Linked DNA regions of Homo sapiens. The protein of the gene in region 1 binds, or shares a complex with, the protein of each later gene. Each region holds a gene or a part of one and is shown in the gene's direction. Other genes may lie near its edges. The genes, in order: GPR3 and GNAS.

Region 1 (12,728 bases):
GGTTCAAGGGATTCTTGTGCCTCAGCCTCCCAAGTAGCTGAGATTCTGAGATTACAGGCACCCGCCACCATGCCCGGCTAATTTTTTGTATTTTTAGTAGAGACAGGGTTTCACCATGTTAGCCAGGATGGTCTTGATCTCCTGACCTTGTGATCCGCCCGCCTCAGCCTTCCAAAGTGCTGGGATTACAGGCATGAGCCACCGTGCCCGGCCAATTTTCTGTATTTTTAAAGTTGAGACAGGGTTTCACCATGTTGGTCAGGCTGGTCTCGAACTTTTCTTTTTTGAGAGGGAGTTTCGCTCTTGTTGCCCAGGCTGAAATGCAATGGTGCAATCTCAGCTCACCGCAACCTCTGCCTCCCGTGTTGAAGCAATTCTCCTGCCTCAGCCTCCCAACTAGCTGGGATTACAGGCATGTGCCACCACGCCCAGCTAGTTTTGTATTTTCAGTAGAGACAGGGTTTCACCATGTTGGTCAGGCTGGTCTCGAACTCCTGACCTCAGGTGATCTGCCTGCCTCGGCCTCCCAAAGTGCTGGGATTACAGGCGTGAGCCACCGTGCCCGGCCAGTTTCGAACTTTTGACCTCAAATGATTCACCCACCTTGACCTCCCAAAGTGCTGGGATTACAGGTGTGAGCCACCATGCCTGGCCCCACCTAACAACTTTTCAACAATGGCTTGACCTCCACAACCCTTTGATTTCTGGCTCTAGAAGTCTCTCTATCCTGGCCTGGGTGCTTCCCATCACCTTCCTACCCTCTAAGAAGATAGAACAGAGCCTTCCCCCTATACCTCTCTTCCTCTATCCTAGCTGTTCTCTCTCCTAGAGGGTCCTCCTCAACCTTGGACTTCATTTGCCTGGCAAACTAATTCTTCAAGACACCACTACAAGACCACCTCCTGCAGGAAGCCTTCTGTGACTGTCACAGAATGAGGCTGAGCTGCTGCAGCACTTAGCTAGAGATCTAAATCCATCTGCTTTTTCCACTTCAGAGCCCTCCCCATCTCTTGCCTGAATGACTGCAGTGGCCTTCTAGTGGGGCTCCTGCTCCCCATTCCAGTCTGTTCTGCACTCAGCAGTCAGAGTGACCCTTTGATAACGTGTCAGTTCAGATCATAACACTTCCCTCCCACCAATGGCGTCTGTCTCACTGATCTGGGATTTCAGGCGCCCGCTGCCACACCTGGCTAATTTTTTGTATTTTTAATAGAGACGGGGTTTCATCATATTGACCAGGCTGGTCTCGAACTCCTGACCTCAGGTGATCCACCCGTCTTGGCCTCCCAAAGTGCAGGAATTACAGGCATGAGCCGCTGTGCCCAGCCAGATGTTTATTAAGTAACCTTACTGTACCATGTTGTGACAATCTGTGTACATGTTTGTCTGTCCCACCGGTCTGTAAGCCCCCAAGAGCTCCCTTCTGTCTCACATGATCTTGCCTCTGCCCACCTCGCCTCTCCTCCCTCTCCCCTTTGCTGATTTAGCTGCAGACACACTAGCCTCCTCTCTCTGGTCCTCACACCCATCAATGCTTTCTCTTCTTGGGGACTTTACACTTGTCGTGTCCTCTCCTTAAGACTCCTGTTCTCTCTTCACGTGACTTGTTCCATGACCTCCCTCCCTAAAAGAGGCCACCTGGTGATCCTACATCCCAACAGCTGCTCTTTTCTTCAGAGCAGGTAGCTAATGTATAATTAATTACTCATTTGTTTCCTAGGCTGTAAGCTTCATGAAGGCAGGAACCATGTTGATCTTCCCTCCTTAGTGAACTCCTTGCACACAGTAAGGGCTGAATAGATGTTGGGGTTTTTGTTTGTTTGTTTGTTGAGACGGAGTTTCGCTCTTGCTGCCCAGACTGGAGTGCAGTGGTGATCTCGGCTCACTGCAACCTCCGCCTCCCAGATTCAAGTGATTCTCCTGCCTCAGCCTCCTGAGTAGCTGGGATTACAGGTGCCTGCCACTATGCCTGGCTAATTTTTTGCATTTGTGGTAGAGACAGGATTTCATCACGTTGGCCAGGCTGGTCTCGAACGCCTGACCTCAGGTGATCCACCCACCTCGGCCTCCCAAAGTGCAGGAATTATGGGCGTGAGCCACCATGCCCAGCCAGATGTTTATTAAGTAACCTTACTTACTATGCCATGTTGTGACCATCTGTGTACATGTTTGTCCCACTGGTCTGTGAGGCCCCCAAGAGCTCCCTACTTGAATAGATTTTAAGGATCTATTTGTAGATTGTCCATCCCTCCAGATTAAAACTGAAGCTTGGCCTGGCACAGTGGCTCATGCCTGTAATCCCAGCACTTTGGGAGGCCGAGGTGGGCAGGTCACCTAAGGCCAGGAGTTCGAGACCAGCCTGGCCAACATGGTGAAACCCTGTCTTTACTAAAAAATACAAAAATTAGCCAGGCGTGGTGGCATGCATCTGTAGTCCCAGCTACTCGGGAGGCTGAGGCAGGAGAATCGCTTGAACCCGGGAGGCGGAGGTTGCAGTGAGCTGAGATTGCACCACTGCACTCCAGCCTGGGCAACAGAGCAAGACTATGTCTCAAAATAACTAACTAAATAAATTAATTAATAAAACTGAAGCTCATTGAAGATGGCAGGGATTTTTGTTCACTGCTGTATTCTCTGTACCCGGGAAATAGAAGATGCTCAATAAATGTGTCTATTGACTGTTGAAAAGGCAGGAATTTGGCCAGATCATCTTTCTGTCCCTAGCACCCACTGAACAAACCCTAAGCCCAGGGGAACTGCCAGTAAATAATGGCTGAATGAATGGGTCTATGCTAAGAATATGGGCACTGATGATGCCTAGACCCTTGGGTCTTAGACAAGGGACTCAGGTGTGGGGATTATCTATGACTGACACACACACACACACACAAGCACACACGCACGAACACCCCCTCCCCGCCAATTCCTCCCTCCCCAAGGGATTTCTCCAACTGGTGAAGACAGAAGAGGCAAGGATAAAAGTCTCACCTGGAAGTGAGTCCTCACAGCCATCTGGTGGCCACCTGGAGAACTGCAGGTATTGTCAGCCCTAGTCAAACTTTAGCCTCAGCCCCTTCTGGGAAGAAGGTGACATCTAGGCCAGAATGGAAGGCACACTGGACTTGGTGACAGATGGACCTGGCTTCAGATCCCAGCTCTGCCATTTACTATGTGATTTGGGGCAAGTCCCTTGGCTTTCCTGGGCTTCACCCAAGAAATGGAGACATGGTCCCTCACTTTTGCAGGTTGTTGTAAGCCTTGGGCTCTGGCTGGGCACCTGGTAGGTGGGAAGGGTTGGAGGAGGTGTCAAGGAGGTAGGGACAGAGGGCATGAGGAGAATAGGAGAGAAGGAACTATCTCTTCCTTTAGAGAGCAAGTATGCGGGGAATGGAGACCTGATTGGTATGAGCACTTTTGGTGCGTGAGGGAGAGCACATGAGGTTCACGTGAAAACCCATAGCCCCCCTTTAGTCTCTTGGCTCTCCTGGGTTTCTCGGGGTTAGAAATGTCACTGCATGCCGGGTGCGGTGGTTCATACCTGTAATCCCAGCACTTTGGGAGGCTGAGCAGGGTGGATCACCTGAGGTCAGGAGTTCAAGACCATCCTGACCAATATGGTAAAACCCTGTCTCTACTAAAAATACAAAAAAAAAAAAAAAAAAAAAAGCTGGGCATGGTGGCGGGCACCTGTAATCCCAGCTACTTGGGAGGCTGAGGCAGGAGAATCGCTTGAACCCAGGAGGCAGAGGTTTCAGTGAGCCGAGATTGCACCACTGCACTCCAGCCTGGGCAACAAGAATAAAACTGTCTCGGAAAAAAAAAAAAAAGGAAAGAAAAGAAATGTCACTGCACTCTCTTTTCCTCTCTGGCTGCCTTAGGATCAACTTCCCTTGCAAACAACAGGATAACTATCAGGATCAGGAAGTTCATGACCAATACTTCAGTGGAAATGATGGTCTTCCGTGTCCTTCACCCTGGGAAGACAACAATACCTAAGACAGAAAACTAGTCAAAAAGTAGAAGACCACTCTGGATTTCATCTTTGTATTTAGAACCCATTTTGGGCTGGGCACAGTGGCTCATGCCTGTAATCCCAGCACTTTGGGAGGCCAAGGTGGGCAGATCACTTGAACCTACGAGTTCAAGACCAGCCTGGGCAATGTGGCGAAACCCTGTCTCTACAAAAATTACACGCCTTAGCCAGGCGTGGTGACACGTGCTTGTAATCCCAGTTACTGTGGAGGCTGAGATGGGAGGATTGCTTGAGTCCAAGAGGTTGAGGCTACAGTGAGCATTGATTGCACCACTACACTCCAGCCTGGGTGACAGACTGAGATCCTGTCTCAAAAAACAAACAAACGAAAAAAAAAGACAGAACCCATTTTGGTGGTGTTAAGACAACTGGCTTGGTTATGATTTATGATTCCTTGGATTATGCAAAGAAAAATTAATCCAAACACAGACTTGCAAGACATAAAAGAAAAAGACCTCAAGAAAACAGCTAAAGGAACTCAAGAACAGAATGACGACAGCCAGGGAGTCACAAGAGTGTGGTGCTGGTGCTGGCAAACAGGAATGGCTTTATCTGCAGCAATGGTGAAGATTTTTCACCAGAGGATCAATAAGCTACGAAAACTTAAAAAATATATAATTGCCATTCAGAGTAGTAGAAGATAGTCCCTGATACCCCCCTTTGATGCCAACCTCCCAGCAGCCTTCACCCATCGCAGAGACCAGAACTCTGTAGGGACCCAGCTCTGATGGGGGAGTAAATGGATCCCTGACCCTGAGTCTTGGGGCCCTGATGCCCTTGGATCCTCTCTCTGACACCCCCACCTTCCTGGGCACCAGGCATATTACTATTCTCTCTGTTTTCCTTTTTTCCTCTGGTTGTTCCCTTTTAGGTCAATCATCCAGTCCATGATTATTTCTTCAATACCCATTACATATCAGGCACTGTTCTCTAGCAGAAATGGGACATAGTCAGTATCCTCTTGGAGCTTAGATTCTAGTGGGGCTGACATGTAGTAAAACAAACAAACATGAATTCATTTATAATTTCAAGAGTGCTTCATCCTCCAAAAATGAATAAATCAAGAGAAGGGGAGGGAGAGTGATGGGGAGGCCAGTGGCGATCTGAGAGTTCAGAGCAGCCTGTTTCAGAAGTAATTCGGGAGCAGAGACCTGGATGAAGAGAAGGGTTGTTGTCAGAGGGGTCAGGTGCAAGAGCCCAGGAGGAGGAGCCCCTGAAGCCACTCCTCACTCTCTGCTCCCGCCCCTGGGTGACATTATTTACCCCTAAAACATCAGTTGCCACCTGCATGCCTACACCTCCCAGGTGTCCCTCATTATCCAGCTGTAACATTGATGGCCAATGGCAAGTAGAACCCACTCAACAACCCCATGAGGCCGGTACTAATATTATCCCTGTGTTTTAGATGAGGAAATAGGCACAGAGAGCTGAAGAAACTCTCCAAAGTCACCCAGCTAGGAAATGGAGAAACTGAGATTGGACACTTCCACCCCCTAAGCCCCCTAAACTCACCACATCCAACCTGAAATGAATCCTCTTCTCCAGCTCCGACCCCCTCCTCCTCCCATGTTCCCTGCCACTTGACCTTCTGCTGCCTCACACTCAAACCCAAAACCTGCCTGGTGGAGGCTGACCATGGGGGCTGCAGTGATGGTGCTGTGATGGGGGTGTCCAGTGGGGCCTGGGATCCTCAGGCCTCTTAACCTCATCTTCCCCTCCCACAGGCCTGCATGATTCCAGGGAGCATCAAGGCAAGAGACACAGGGAGAAGGAGCAGCCAGTCCCCCTGCCGCAGGACTGGCCACATCTGTCACATCTGGAGAAGTCTGCCCAGAGTGGTTCCCCTGGACTAAGGGCAGATGGCGTTGGGGAAGAGGGAGCTCTTTCTCCTTGCTCCACCCATCAGGATGCCTAAAATAGGAGGCTGAGAGGGGCCTGCCCTGAGGACTGAGCTGCCAGGCTTTCTGCTTCCAAGTTCTTCCCGGCTCCCCATCTCCTCCTGCTTCAGGGAAGTGCACCCCTCACCCCCTCCACGCTGGCTTTCTAGATACTGGAATAAATAATTCAGGTTTTGAAATCTTGCCAGGCCCACCCCTCCGGTGCTGTGAGGGCGCTATTGGGCTGACATGAGTGACGTCACCCAGCTCTTATCCCAGCCCCGGCATCACGGGACTTGCCCTGGCAGCAACTTACCTGCCTGGTCACTGTCAGTCCAGACCCTCTACCCTGTGCCCCTCACCCTGGAGCCCACTCACCACAGCCACCTGCTATCTTCGTTCCAGGGCCCCACAGTCCTCATGGCTTAGCATTGTCGCTTCAGTACCCCAGCCATTCTGACAGGGTAATGGTGACCTGAAGTCACCTGGACACTCCATGTTCCCAGGCCGCTGCCTCTGCCATCCCGGGGTCCCTGAACTCCCCCCTGCTGCATAGTCACCCTGACACTGCCATGGTTGCCCTGAGGGCTTCCCCTCTACCGTTAGCGTCCCACGGCCATCACCCCCCACCCCAAGATTCTGTCACCATGCTAATGTCGTCACTGCCACCCACCTCCCCGCTCCCTCGTGCTCCCTGTCATCGTCACCTCAGGGCCCCATCATCTTGGAAACCCTGTCATTCTCACCAGGGAAGCCCAACCAGCCCCATCACAAGCTCTTCCTTCGTCACCTGGATCTCGTCAGCCTCTCTGCCACCCAAGGGTCCCATCACCCCACAGCCTAGCCGGGCCCCCTTTCCACTCTTCCACCACGTTCCCTGCAGCCTCTCTGAGACTTCAAGGCTCTCGCACCGGCGCCTCTGAAACCCCCGGCCCGCAGAGGGCGCCGCGTCAAGGACAGCGCGGGCGGACTCGGGAGGGGGCGGGGCCGCAGCCACGGTCGCTTTTTATGAATGGGGGAGCGGGCGGTGCGAGGCCTTATTACTATGCCGCGCAACGCGCGCTGCGCCCCAGCGCGCCGCGCCCATTGGCTGATCGGACCGCTGACGTCACCGAACCGGTGGCCGGGGGCGGGGCGGGGTGACTCACGCCGCTTCTCCCGCGGCCGCGGGGGCTTCTCGGGGTCCACGCACGCCCTGCGCCGCCAGGACCCGAGCGGAGCCTCCCCGCGGCCCGGCCGCGCCTGGTCCTGAGCGGTGAGTAGCGGGCCCCGCCGCGGGCACCAGGGGTCCTGAAGGGCACGCAGGATGCTGGGGCACTGGGCCGGCGGAAGGCTCCTAGTGGCCGGCCGGGGTTCGAGTTCGAGGTGGGAATTCTGGGTTTAGGCGATTCTGGGTTAGCAGGCTTGGGCCCAAGTGCTCGAGTGCTGGGGTTGAGTTGGATGACCCGGCGAAGGGTAAGCATTCCTGCAGGGACCCGAGGCCCTGGAGGGACTGATGGTCATCTGAGGTTAAGCCGGCAGGAGGCGTCTGGGGCAGGGACCCAGGGGTCCGAACAGCAGGAGGTGTCCAATTTAGGAATCCAGGTATCCAGGCAGGAGGCAGAGTCAGGCCCAAAATCCAGGTGTCCGGGCAGAAGGAGGCATCTGACTCAGGGATCCAGTCTTCCAGCAGGGGGGTCTGCCCAGAGACCTAGAGATTCAGGCGGAAAGAAGGGTCCAGCCAGGAACAGAAGTCTGGGAGGGTGGGGGGTGGGGGGCTGAGTTCCCAGGTGTTACCGCGGGAGTGCGGGGTGATGGCTGGCGGGAGCTTCACGCGCATTCCCTGGGGGCGGAGTCTAAGGCTGGCAGTACTGAAAATCGTGAGGGGTCTGGGAGCCTCAGGCACGAGCTAGCATCATCATCTCTGATGGGAGGGAGCGGAGCTGCTCAGTCTCCCTGATGGGGTAGATGTTTCCCTACCCCAATCTTGAGCCTTCGGGGGCATCCCCTGGATCCTATGGCCCTCTTCCACTTATAGTACCCCTTCTTCTGTCTCTCCTCTGGTCACACACGTGGGAAAAAGAGACCTGCAGGACCTAGGACAGGGATCCCCAGGAAGAGACCCCTGTTTAGAGGCCTGGGGGCATTGGAGGGGACAGCGGTATCCTGGGAAGAGCCCCAGGGCATGAATGTGGGGATAAGGCATTGGGACCCTATCAGGTATCCTGAGGAGAGACTCCCACCACGTATCCTGAGAAGCACCTCACCCCCTCCAGACCCCAACTCCCATCACCCAGCTTGGTCAGCTTCTCACAAGGCCTTTCTCCTGCAGGTACCATGATGTGGGGTGCAGGCAGCCCTCTGGCCTGGCTCTCAGCTGGCTCAGGCAACGTGAATGTAAGCAGCGTGGGCCCAGCAGAGGGGCCCACAGGTCCAGCCGCACCACTGCCCTCGCCTAAGGCCTGGGATGTGGTGCTCTGCATCTCAGGCACCCTGGTGTCCTGCGAGAATGCGCTAGTGGTGGCCATCATCGTGGGCACTCCTGCCTTCCGTGCCCCCATGTTCCTGCTGGTGGGCAGCCTGGCCGTGGCAGACCTGCTGGCAGGCCTGGGCCTGGTCCTGCACTTTGCTGCTGTCTTCTGCATCGGCTCAGCGGAGATGAGCCTGGTGCTGGTTGGCGTGCTGGCAATGGCCTTTACCGCCAGCATCGGCAGTCTACTGGCCATCACTGTCGACCGCTACCTTTCTCTGTACAATGCCCTCACCTACTATTCAGAGACAACAGTGACACGGACCTATGTGATGCTGGCCTTAGTGTGGGGAGGTGCCCTGGGCCTGGGGCTGCTGCCTGTGCTGGCCTGGAACTGCCTGGATGGCCTGACCACATGTGGCGTGGTTTATCCACTCTCCAAGAACCATCTGGTAGTTCTGGCCATTGCCTTCTTCATGGTGTTTGGCATCATGCTGCAGCTCTACGCCCAAATCTGCCGCATCGTCTGCCGCCATGCCCAGCAGATTGCCCTTCAGCGGCACCTGCTGCCTGCCTCCCACTATGTGGCCACCCGCAAGGGCATTGCCACACTGGCCGTGGTGCTTGGAGCCTTTGCCGCCTGCTGGTTGCCCTTCACTGTCTACTGCCTGCTGGGTGATGCCCACTCTCCACCTCTCTACACCTATCTTACCTTGCTCCCTGCCACCTACAACTCCATGATCAACCCTATCATCTACGCCTTCCGCAACCAGGATGTGCAGAAAGTGCTGTGGGCTGTCTGCTGCTGCTGTTCCTCTTCCAAGATCCCCTTCCGATCCCGCTCCCCCAGTGATGTCTAGCTGAGTCTTCATGACCCTTCAACCCTGATTACTACAGAATTCCAGAATGTTAGGCTCTCCAGGGCTTCTTTCCAAACCCCCAGCTCCACACCCCCCAGACCCAGCTGGTTCTGGAGTTCTAGGACATTGGGTGTTTCAAGGTTCTGTTCAGATCCCTATGGGGGCCCAGCTGGCTCCACGGTTCCAGAATGTTCAGGTGGTCAGTGTTCTACTCAGAAATGTCTCACAGCCCAGCTGGGTTGCAATTCCAGAATGCTGGGAGTTTTACAGTGCCATTCCAAGTCCCAGATGTCCCTCTTCCCCCAAACTTGACCTTGACCATGTCACTTTATGTTTGAATTTCTGAGCTAAAGAGTCAGAGAGATTAGTCACATAGTTGCCTAAATAGGAGAGAGAAAGATTATATATGCACATATACAAAGACAGTGTCTATTTATGATTGATTTATTTATTTATAAATTTACTTATGGGTGGTAAGGGGCAAAAAAGAGGCCCACACCTTGATATCCAGGCCATACCAGGGTATCCCTTGTCCCTTCACCCCCATTTCTGACCTCAGTTCCTGGAGGGGGGAAAGGGTGAAAGAGAAACCACGTATTTTGTTATTATTTTGGATTATTTTTTATCGAAGAGATCATAGAAACCAGAGCCTTCTCCCCAGGCCTGCCCTCCTCGGGTTTGGAAGGGGAACACACCAGCCTCTGGTTTTTTATTTTTTTAAGAAGCCATCACCTGAGCAACCAAAAATTCCTCTGCGCTGGGGTCCGACTGCCCTCTGGTGGCCATTTGGGGAAAACTGCAGCCCGGCCAGGCAGCTGGGACCAGAATGCAACCCCAGCTCCACTCCAGCCTGGCGTCCAGGGCCACAGCCATGGCCTGGGGGCCAAGCCTCACCCTGCGGTGCCCTAAAGGAGGGGGGGCACGAGCCAACACCCCACCCCTCTGCCAACCGGGGTATGGCCCCCAGTGCATTCCCTGTTCCCGTCTCCAACCCAACTCAATAAAAAATGATTTTGTCATAAATATGTTTCCCTATGTGTGTGTGGAGGGTATGGAGTGGGGCCTGATGGGGGATGGCCTGGAATGAGAGGGTCAAGCCAGGCCTGGGGGGCCTGTTGGGGGATCTGGGGAGCTGGACAGAGGGTGGAGGGTGGCTGGCAGGTGACTCCTTCTCAGATGTCAGTGCCCCTCTGCTCAGACCTGGGCACTGACTGGCAAGGACCTTACCTCCTCCTGGTGACAGGAACCTGGGTGCTTGGCTCTTCCTGGGTCAAGGATGCTCACATCCTGCCCACACCGGCCACTGTGGGGCTTAGACATGATGAATATGCTCAAAGCATGTCAGTTTCCTTAATAATAATAGGTCCTACTTTTTTTTTTTTTTTTTTTTTTTTTGAGACAGAGTCTCGCTCTGTCCCCCAGGCTGGAGTGCAGTGGCGTGATCTCGGCTCACTGCAAGCTCCACCTCCCGGGTTCACGCCATTCTCCTGCCTCAGCCTCCCGAGTAGCTGGGACTACAGGCGCCCACCATCACGCCCGGCTAATTTTTTTTGTATTTTTAGTAGAGACGGGGTTTCACTGTGTAAGCCAGGATGGTCTCGATCTCCTGACCTCGTGATCCACCCGTCTCAGCCTCCCAAAGTGCTGGGATTACAGGCGTGAGCCAACGCGTCTGGCCAATAATAGGTCCTTCTAATCATGGGTGCCTACTGTGTGTCTGGCACACATGCTACCTCGCTTATGCCTAATAAGCATCCCATGGCACCGGTAGTGTCTTCTCCATTTTACAAACGAGGGAGCTGAGGCTGAGTGAGGGACAGCAGCTGGCCCAAGGCCATACAGCTAAAAAATGGTAGAGCCAGGAACATCTGTTTCCAGAATCTGTGCTGTGTAGTGAGTGATTTCCTTCCTTCCCAAGCCTGGAGCTTAGGACATTCTGGACCCTGATTTTTTTTTTTTTTTTTTTTTGAGACAGAGTCTTGCTCTGTTGCCCAGACTGGAGTGCAATAGCGTGGTCTCGGCTCACTGCAACCTCCGCCTCCTGGGTTCAAGCGATTCTCCTGCCTCAGCTTCCCAAGTAGCTGGGATTACAGGCACCTGCCACCACGCCTGGCTAATTTTTGTATTTTTAGTAGAGACTGGGGTTTCACCATGCTGGCCAGGCTGGTCTCGAACTCCCGACCTCAGGTGATCCGTCCGCCTCAGCCTCCCAAAGTGCTGGGATTACAGGCGTGAGCCACCGCACCCAGCTGGACCCTGATTTATTTTGGGGTTCATTTTTAGGGCCACATTTGGGAAGTGGTCGGAGGGGGTCTGGTCATTTTGGAGTCAGAAGAGCTTTTCTACGCAAAGGTGAGTGACTATCAGTGTGTGCCTTTGGGGACATATGTGTGCAGGACCCAGAGTTTGGGTACTTGAGGAGAGGAAGCTGACCCCAGAAAGAATGTGTCTATCAGGCCAGGGCAGCAGCAGGTTTGGGGTGTGGCTGAAGAGGAAGCTTTGATTGGCCAAGCCTCCCAGCTTCCCAAGCCTTATTTTTGGGCAAAGCTTGGAGGTGGGGCTCTTGGAGCATTTCTGGCTCACCCCTCCACATACAGACAGGAGCCCGAGGCCCAAAGAGGAGCAACCATTTGCTCAAACTCGCACAGCTGTGCCAGGCTAGGACACAGGCCTTTCTCCATTTCCCTGGCAGAGTTAGAGCCCTTTTGTCTGGTGTAAAGATCCCTCCCTTGGCCAGGTGTGGTGGCTTACGCCCGTAATCCCAGCACTTTGGGAGGCCGAGGCGGGCAGATCACCTGAGTCAGGAGTTCGAGACCAGCCTGGTCAACATGATGAAACCCTGTCTCTACTAAAAATACAAAAAATTAGCCGGATGTGGAGCCTATAATCCCAGCTACTTGGGAGGCTGAGTCAGGAGAATCGCTTGAGCCCGGGAGGCAGAGGTTGCAGTGAGCTGTGAGCCAAGATCGCGCCATTGCACTCCAGCCTGGGCAACAGAGTGAGATTCCGTCCCCACCCCCCAACCAAAAAAATCCCTCCCAGTAGTCTGAGGAGAGTCGTCATGCCAATAGGCCCAGGCACAAAGCAGGGAGGCCGCACCAGGTCAGGCCAAGCTTTATTCTATCCCCACCCTCCTGACAGGTCCCTGGGAAAAGTCCCTACTCAGCAGGCCCCTCCCCCACGCCAAACATTCCATACCATCACCGTGGCTTTGTCAAATGGGTACCATTGCTCCTCCCCATTTTACAAAAGAAGAAGTTGAGGCTCCAAGAGTAATGGGCCTTCATTCATTCACTGCTGTCCTTGTGGACAGCTTAAATTCTAGCTGGGGGAAATAGTAATACAAAGTTTTTCCCAAAATGTAATATTACACAGTGGTAAGTCCTCAGAGAAAGAGCAGGGGAAGAAGGATGGGGAGGGTGTGAGTAATTTTTAAATTAGGGTGCCCAGGAAAAGCCTCCCTGAGAGGTGACATTGGATTGGTCCAAAGTCAGAGGGTTGGTAAGGAG
Region 2 (8,573 bases), on another chromosome or scaffold:
GATATTGATTACGGGCTTGTGAAAAGGCAAGTAAAGGAGGAATGCTGTGCTATCTGGGCATTAAAACAAAACAATACAATTAAAAGTTAAAAAGAAAGAAAAAGGTAATAACAGATTTGTGTGGAAGGAGGGCAAAAAAACTTCACACGTGGATTATCTGTTGGAGAATGTGCATTGCAAAAAAGATGCAAAATAGCAATCCTCCCTCTAGCTTGATGGAAATGTGTTTTTTCCATGAAACATATATGTATTTTTACAAATGAAAGATGATTTAAAATGGAGGCATGTGTTTCTACTCTTTGAGTTGGGAAGGGCTTGGAATCTTTCAAATTCAGTACTTCCCAGGGATAGTTTTCCTTTTGATTAAAGTTTTGTTCTTATGTTACTTTTTACTGTTGTTTTTGCAGTTTACCTAATGCTAATAGGGTCTCAGGAACTGTATTTGATGTTAAAGTGTGGTTTTTCCAGAAGATGACAGATAATTGATGGTCTCCCCTTTTCCTCAGCAACATAGTTGTACCCAGAGGGAATTTATCTTTAGAAAGATATAGTTTGTGAGGAAAGAGGAGGATGGATAAGTGGATAAAATGTAATGCAGTTTTAGGGGTGGATTTTTAAGTAGCCCAAGGGGTAGGAAACCTGCACAGAAAGAAGCTGCGTTGTGAAAATGTTGAGGAGGAAAGTGCTGCATCGCTACGTGATGTGGAAGAGACTGCAGTGTCTGGGCATTGTTGGGAATCCCGGGTATTTTAACCATGAAACATCTGACAACAAATTATGTGTCTAGATATGTTTATGTGTGAATGTTCATGTATCAGGGATTCAGTTTCACAGTTTTAACTTCAATTTTCTTGTTTACCCCACAAATGACAAAATTGCGTCATTCCTTCTCTTTGCCCCTTTCCAACACCACCCCACAATTTTTTAAACAATCAAAAGAAAAATTAAAACCAGCAAACCTTAAATTCTTGTTTGTTATTTGGATGGTGAAATACTGCAGGTAGACACTGAATTGGACATTGATTTCCTTTTCTCTGCGTCGAAATGTCAAGGAAAGTTGCAAGTCTGTGATTTTGTGTTTGGTTTTTTGCATGTTGCTTCTATGGAAAAACAAAACAACAACAGCAGACCTCCCTGCCCAAAGTGTTAAAATGCCTCCTTCATAACCTGAGACTTACTTTCATTTTCTAGGTGCTGGAGAATCTGGTAAAAGCACCATTGTGAAGCAGATGAGGATCCTGCATGTTAATGGGTTTAATGGAGAGTAAGTGTCAAATCTGTGCAGGGGGGCACCAAGTAAGAGGAACAGACTTTATACTAACCTTTAGGAAGTATAGGTGGGCTTTGGGGGCTGGGCAGCCAGTTTTCACTTAATTTTTCCTGATTTACATATTAGAAAATCCTGGGAAGGGCTCTTTAGGGTCCCTCACCCCCCACCCCCTTGGATCTTTGGTGCAACAAATACTACTGATGAAAGCACCAGTGTTTGTGACAAACATCTCCCTATCCCAAGAAAATCGTGCCTGGTTGCAGGGGACGCTTGACAGCACTTGGCCCCGTGACAGCCCCTCTCCGGGCCAGGTCCCTGCCACAGTCTTCGGACATCACTGCAGTGTCTTCAACGTGGCTTTGGCCGCCCCCTCGTCCGGCCCACGCTGATCACTGCAAATTCACCCCACCCCACCTCACGCAGATTTCAATGTAATGAACCAACACAGGATGTTTTAAACTATTAGGGAAACATTGTTTCCATAATATTCTCACCAGAAACAGATGTGGAAGTGGCAGCCCGTGTTTACAGTTTCTCATTTTTTTTGTCCCCCTTTAAATTACCATTATGGGTAAATCATTGTTTCCCTTTAAAACAAAAAACAAATCAGTACCCCTGCCTACAGAAAAGAAGAGGGAACATTTATTTAAAGGATGGAAAGACTGGGAGTTAGGCACTCCCAGCCTCACTGAGGGGCATTTTTGCCTTTGAGAAGTCCTCCCAGGTATCCTGGTATAGCACAATGTGGCAATCCGTAGTGGGAATGAAGATTAAACAGGAGAGACTTTGTATTAGACCTGTGAGACGAGTTAGGAAGCCCTGCCTGGCATGGGGAATGCAAACAGGGAACATTCAATAAATCGGGGAACTTGCTTTTCTCCCCAAGACCCCAGATGGGGCCTACCCATCGTTCTCGTGTAACAAAACGTGTAAAAAAAAAAAAAGAAAAAGAAAAAACAAAACAAAAAAACTAAGTTGACCAGTCTGTTTTCACTGGTATGAGAGCATTAACCGCACTAGATTTCAAGCACCTGAAGGCACTAGTTTGTAATTACTAGCTGGTTGGCACAGTCCTGTTCCCTTTCTTAAACTTGGATTCGATTGAAAATTTAACCTTGAGTTGCTTCAGCTTCCATTTCAAAAGGGGAGTTGGAGTCAAGGTGGTAGCGTTTAATTATACCAACCACCCCCCAAAAAAACAAACAAAACAAACAAAAAAACCTTTACTAGTCACTAAGCATCCAGGAAACAAAGGTGAACTTTTTCACCTTTCAGAGCAAGGCAGGCAGCTCCTTATAGAGAATTCTAGAATTTGTTAGATCAAATAATTGTTTAGAGAAGGATGACATCACCCATACGAATAGTCCTGTTAGTTGAGGATGCTTTTTCTACTTTAACCCTGAATTCAGAAGGATTGGTTGGGATGCACAGGGGGCTTCTTCACTCATCTGATTATGACTCTCAATGGGTTATCAACATGCACATACGTGCTATTGAGTAAGTCAGCATCACTTGTCACCAACCAATTCCGAAATTAATTCTTGACACACCCCTCGATAAAGCCCTGCCAGCGGAGACTGCCATCCTGACAATAAATAAATAACCCTGAGACAGACTTCCAACCATGAATCTGTCATTTGAAGAAAAATCTTGCATAAATTTTCCCCCTGCAACTTGCAGGAGTACTTACTTATTCATGAGAGTAGTTAAGCAAAAATAATTTGACCATGTATCCTCTAGATAAATATTTTGATGAAAACTGGACATGGCTAGCATTTTTCAAAGATGCAGCAGCCACTGTTTACCTTAGCTTGAGTCGGATGGAAGCTAAGTCACCTTTGAAATAAATTACTGACAGCTTCATTACAGATTGCCCTAAAATTTAAAAATTTTTATAGAAAGGATTCTCCTCCCTAAGCGAGCCAGCCTGTAACACCAGGCAAGGGTTTTAAACCAGAACTTCTCTTTTCTGTTTTCTTTTTGGAAAGAGGAAGCAACATTCCCAGTTTGCCTTCTTTGCAGACAAGGGCACAGATACGTTAAATTTAGCCTGTGAGAGGGTTTACAGGGGTATTCCTCATGGGAGCCTAGATACCTTATTTTTATCTCATCCAACTGCCTCCTTTTTTCTTTTTCCTCACTGCGGTATTGCAACAAAAGCTATTTCCTTCTTAACTAGGAATTCCCTATGAGACAGTGACATCTGTCCCTAAAGGGTGGTCTGGGTGGTACAGGGTTCTTCCTCCCTGATCTTGCGTTTTGTTAGGGCTCGGCTGAGCTATTAAATTTGCCTTAACTCTCTGCGGGCTGCCATGCTGATTACATTTTTAAGAGTAAGATAATACTGATTTGACCTTCAGAAATACAGAGGTTGGATGCGGATTTTCTAACTCAAAACTAACTCTGTTTCTTACATTTAGTGCCAGGAACAAAACAAAAACAAAACATAAACACCATTAACATTGGTTGAACTAAGCTAATCAATTACCAAACTGTAGAATGCTGCCCTTCGGCCTTCAAGGAGGAATTCCTACTGTTTATGAAGATCGGGTTTGGGTTTTTGGTTTTTTTTTTCTTTTTCTTTTTTCCGTGGTGGTGGTGGGTGGGCTTTTGTTCTTTTTGTTTTTTCTGTGGTGGTGGTGGGTGGGCTTTTGTTCTTTGAAATTTTTTTTGCTACATCACAGTCCAGACATAGTTTAATGACAATTTATGGGGAACAATTATTTATAAATAAAACCATTTTATAGGTAGTTTCCTTCCACTGCAAGAAGTGAGGTCATTAGTTTTGCAGGAAATCCTGGGCAGAAATCTCCCCCGTTTATGCCTTTATGCCTTAAGTTACAACCTTGGGAAGATTCTGACCTGGGAGAATTAGGAGCCTTATGCGCTGCCATATTCTCCAAAGAATTGTGAGATAAATCACTGCTTTAGCTCCCTAATGCGTGTACGTTTAGTGAAAGCACAAGAAAACAATTATCCATCCCTCCTGTCTCCGACCAGAGTCTCCAGAGAGCTCTGTTAATACTGCAGCAAAGGTGTGGGATTCTTCCCCCATGGCCTGCAGTCTCAGTGGATGTTCCAATTTAGCCAGAAAGGCGACCTAAGAATTGCCGGGAGGATGGATGGCTGGCGCGCGAATTGTTGCTTTTGCTCTTGGCTGATGGTTGAGGAATGTAGAGAGACTGTGTGGGGTTTGTGTGACACTGCGGTGCCTTGCAGATTAGGTGAGCTTTCAATCTCTCTTTAAAAGGGGCGGCGAAGAGGACCCGCAGGCTGCAAGGAGCAACAGCGATGGGTAGGCACATTCAAAACCAGAAAAAATTGTTAACAAACCAAACAAACATGAAGATCATACTGGGAAACTGAGGCCAGAGACCCGGGAAGAAAATAAAAATCATTTAAAGGACCATCAGCCATATTGGCATACATTTGTGAATAACACACAATTTCCTGACATTTTGGAGCAAGTAAAGTGCGTAACATAAATTTTTTTGGCCATGCTTAAAGTAGAATGAGATCCAGCTGGGGGAAAGTTATAGATTTCAGCCTTGGATGATCAGTTTAGGATTTTGAGAATTGATGTTTTTCCATATGGTTTCTGTTTTCCCCCAGCTCTCCATTTGAACCAGCTGCTTGTTTTAAAACTATCTACTAAATTCCATCTACCCACTGGTTGGTCTGATTTTAAAATTTCAGACCTCTTTGAAACAAAATTTGTTTCCTTTATTAAAATATGCAATGCTGCACCGTCTTTAATTTTGAAAAACGCCTTGGTACCTTGCAGCAGGTCGTTAAGAATCATCTCGAAAAGCCTCTGGCCTTTTAAAAATGATCAAATTTATTTGAATCAAAGGCACTTTACGTTAGCTTGGTGGATAAGGAAATTCATGATGGCATCTTTTATTTTTCCATTCATTATCAAATTATTTTTTCTTTGCTTCCTGCATCCCCACACCCATCACACACACACACACGCACACACATGCACATGCATACACAGACACGCACACACATCACACGCACACACAGCCACACGCGCCGCGCACACACACACGCATGCCAGGTAACCACTCTAGCTCTGCTGTGTATTTAGCATGCAGTGGTGGAGTGGCTATTTCTCATGAGACCATCCAGAACCATTGACTTAGTTTAGGGCATCTCAAAGAAACAGCTTCTGTGGCCGGGGAGGGGAGGGGCAAAGATATTGGGGTCTGGGGACAAAGTAACTGACACATGTTTGTTCATCTGTTTCTTTTAGAATATAATATCCCTAGATGATGGCTACAGTTTCTCATCTTCCCGGCTATGTCCTATCACAATTTGCATGCTGGAATTGCTCGGTCTTAGGAACTTCTAATAAGAATACTATTCTGTTATCTGAGGGGGGAGGGGGGATGGGGCCCCTGCTACCTGACCTTAAACGATGATTGAAAAAACGAAAAATGAACTGAAATCCTTAATTGGCAGAAATGTAGTATGACAACTATCCAAAAAGGCATCTCTATAAGAAATGACTAATTGACAATCTGCTGTACCAAAAGTTGGCATTTGAGCAAGATATGACAAGTCCTTAGTGAGCAACCTACTGTGTACTAGATGTCCTGCTAAACCCTTGAACCCTACTAATACCTTGGCCTGCACGTCTCTCTCACTCTGTTCTGCAAGTCAATATAAGTATTAACATTCGTGATAAATAAAAATTCTCTGCATGTTTCAGCAATCCCTGTATCTCGCGTCTGTCTTCTGTCTTCCTTCCTTTGTCTGTCTTTTCCCACCAAAGCACAAGGATTAAGGTGGAGACCTGAATAGCTTCCCCCACCACTTAGTTAGCTGAAGCGGGGGGAGGGGAGGAGCTCTTAAAAACTGAACGCATCCCATCTGCTGTATACATAGAAGGGGGAGGAGGAGGAACCAAGACCCTAAAAGTACTTCCAGCCTTAGTCCCAATTTTGTAGCGAATCAGAATTCTAGCTAATGGCATATGTTTTGCCTTTGTTGAGTAGTTTAAAGACATCTAAGGAATTTTCTCTGAATTTCACAATCAACGTTAAATTCATTAAGCAATAGTAAAAGTGATGATAAACCCGCCAACCCCCAGTATAATATCTCCATCTACATAGTAATTGCTTCAATGGAAGAATTTTATGTTTTAGTATTACACACCCGAATTAGATTTTAGATTTCTATTTTAGCTGTTTTATACTTGATATACTCCCACACCTATTCACATACGTAGATGAATACTGAACACGTTCTCAAAATATCCGTATTTTAAGACGGGAAGTTTTCCAATTATCATACTACTGCTTAGACCAAAATATCAAACTGAATGAAAGAAACTTGTTTCTGGAAATACTTTCTCTTGCTGTATGCAGATTTGGATATTTAGTACCCGAATGTATTTAATTTTACTATTGTGGAACCTCAAAACCAAAGGTTAATAGCTTTCATTACCTGTGAAGTGGAGCCTGCTTTTAATGAATGGGAATAGATTTGCCCTAGGGGGTTTTGGGTAAATTCTGAATTCAAAAGTGAACATTGGGGACCATCAAACACATGTCCTTTTAATTTATAACATCTAAATAATCGATGTTAGACTGTAATACCAAGGCCGGGGATTCTTAATTTCAGAAATGAGCTTTGATTCTGCACATACAAAGCAGACAGTCGCACAGAGCGGTCAGGACTCACTCCCTTTCACTCTAAGGTGGTTGCTTTAAGAGTCTGGGGGCCAGAATCAGATTTCAGATTTGTACACAAGGCCTGAAGCTCGCTCACCTCCCTGTCATCTGTGTTTCTGAGATTCTCCGGACCTGCAGCACTTTTACTTAAATGGCCCTGAGGGGATTCCTGGCAACATCTGTCCCCCCTCCCCACCCCAGACACCCCCCACCACTAATGAGCGTGGCCCCTCTGAACTTCCCCAGCTCTTCACCCAATGTAGAAGAGCAGTGGTGCAGTGACCTGTGAAAGGGGCTTCACGTAGGAAGGGGGCGAGATGGGATCCTTCAGCAGGTGAAGGCCCAGAAGTACACAGACATTTATTCAGAAAGAATAAATTTGTAAGTATAATTCTTTGAGAAAGGAAAGACCAAATGATTTGTGGAAGGCCTGTCGACAGGCCCGCACTTGACCCCACCGTCCGTCCCCGCCCCCCACCCCTGCTGCTCCACTGACTGCCCTGCCCTGCTCGTCTGCTCGTCTGCTCTTGCTAATTAACCTCCCTTCGCCTTTCCTCTGCCTTAACTGTCGTGTTCTAGTCTGGAGAGATTATATGTTTTAATTTCTACTCCAGTCTATGAATTGGTGAATCAGCCAAGTGAATGCTTCAAAAACTGGGACTCTCAAAAGATTAAAAAATATATATATACAAACCGTGAAAAAGATAAACTCTGTCCCCTCCATCTCCCATTGGTTTCTGCCTCGGTGACTCCCCCCCTCTTGGCCTCAGTTTCCCTGTCAGAGAGGCAGGACCGTAGCACCTTTTTTCCGCATGACAACGCCCTCACCTCCCAGGGCCTAACAGGTACAGCAGGTGTGCTGTGTGTGCTGGTTCCATTTTTGGGCTATAGACCTGATGAGATACATACTCCACACAAGAGGCCTTTTCTTGCCCTCTAAAAACATAAACTCGAGAACCTTCCCTGGCTGTGCTTCTAATGAAGGCTAGTTTCTGAAAAACATACAGCATTTGGATCAGTGTAATGTGGTACAAAAATTAACATTCTGTTATGGTCCCCAGAAGCCAAAGGGTGTGTCCTTTACCTGTGGGACCAGTGACCCTGAATATAGATCATTCCATAAAGACCACGCAGGCCATCCCATGTGGCTGAGTTAAACTCAAGGAAAAGCTACAAAACCTTCAACCTCTACTTACCAGAGGGATCTGACCTCCCCTCCCCCTTAGATTATAAGGCCTTCTAGGGGGTGGAATCTTATTTGATTCCTATTGCACATGGACCAACATGCACTAACATCATGAACTAGAAGTTTCATTGCTGCTAGCTGCAGTGCCTGGAGCATCGCACATACGACTTTTTTTTTTTTTTTTTTTTTTTTTTTTGACAGAGTCTCACTCTCGCCCTGGCTGGAGTGCAGTGGTGCCATCTCAGCTTACTGCAACCTCCGCCTCCCGGGTTCAAGCAATTCTCCTGCCTCAGCCTCCCTAGTAGCTGGGATTACAGGTGCATGCCACCATGCCCAGCTAGTTTTTTTGTGTGTTTTTAGTAGAGACGGGGTTTCACCATGTTGGCCAGACTGGTCTCCAACTCCTGACCTCAGGCAGTCTGCCCGCCTCAGCCTC

What was found.
Region 2: the proteins of GPR3 (region 1) and GNAS are in contact, whole or in part, in a cryo-EM structure (PDB 9LYB), measured with the Homo sapiens proteins. Residues at the interface, in NP_005272.1 of Homo sapiens: Met75 (codon at 8,449), Arg134 (codon at 8,626), Ser137 (codon at 8,635), Leu138 (codon at 8,638), Tyr139 (codon at 8,641), Ala141 (codon at 8,647), Leu142 (codon at 8,650), Tyr144 (codon at 8,656), Tyr145 (codon at 8,659), Glu147 (codon at 8,665), Ile216 (codon at 8,872), Ile219 (codon at 8,881), Val220 (codon at 8,884), Arg222 (codon at 8,890), His223 (codon at 8,893), Gln226 (codon at 8,902), Ile227 (codon at 8,905), Leu229 (codon at 8,911), Gln230 (codon at 8,914), Arg231 (codon at 8,917), His232 (codon at 8,920), Lys244 (codon at 8,956), Gly245 (codon at 8,959), Thr248 (codon at 8,968), Arg300 (codon at 9,124); in NP_000507.1 of Homo sapiens: Gln35, Arg38, Ala39, His41, Val217, Phe219, Asp323, Asp343, Leu346, Thr350, Tyr358, Cys359, Phe376, Cys379, Arg380, Asp381, Ile383, Gln384, Arg385, Met386, His387, Leu388, Gln390, Tyr391, Glu392, Leu393, Leu394.

What each region holds. Positions count from the first base shown.
Region 1 is NC_000001.11:27,385,573-27,398,300, forward strand, and holds GPR3 (G-protein coupled receptor 3), read left to right. Parts: upstream 1-7,049; 5' UTR 7,050-7,165; intron 7,166-8,221; 5' UTR 8,222-8,226; coding exon 8,227-9,219; 3' UTR 9,220-10,242; downstream 10,243-12,728. UniProt on the Homo sapiens protein: Constitutively active G-protein coupled receptor that maintains high 3'-5'-cyclic adenosine monophosphate (cAMP) levels that a plays a role in serveral processes including meiotic arrest in oocytes or neuronal development via activation of numerous intracellular signaling pathways.
Region 2 is NC_000020.11:58,894,421-58,902,993, forward strand, and holds part of GNAS (protein GNAS), read left to right. Parts: intron 1-1,191; coding exon 1,192-1,264; intron 1,265-4,520; coding exon 4,521-4,565; intron 4,566-5,528; coding exon of another isoform or gene 5,529-5,535; exon of another isoform or gene 5,536-5,575; coding exon of another isoform or gene 5,576-5,610; exon of another isoform or gene 5,611-6,079; intron 6,080-8,573. UniProt on the Homo sapiens protein: Guanine nucleotide-binding proteins (G proteins) function as transducers in numerous signaling pathways controlled by G protein-coupled receptors (GPCRs).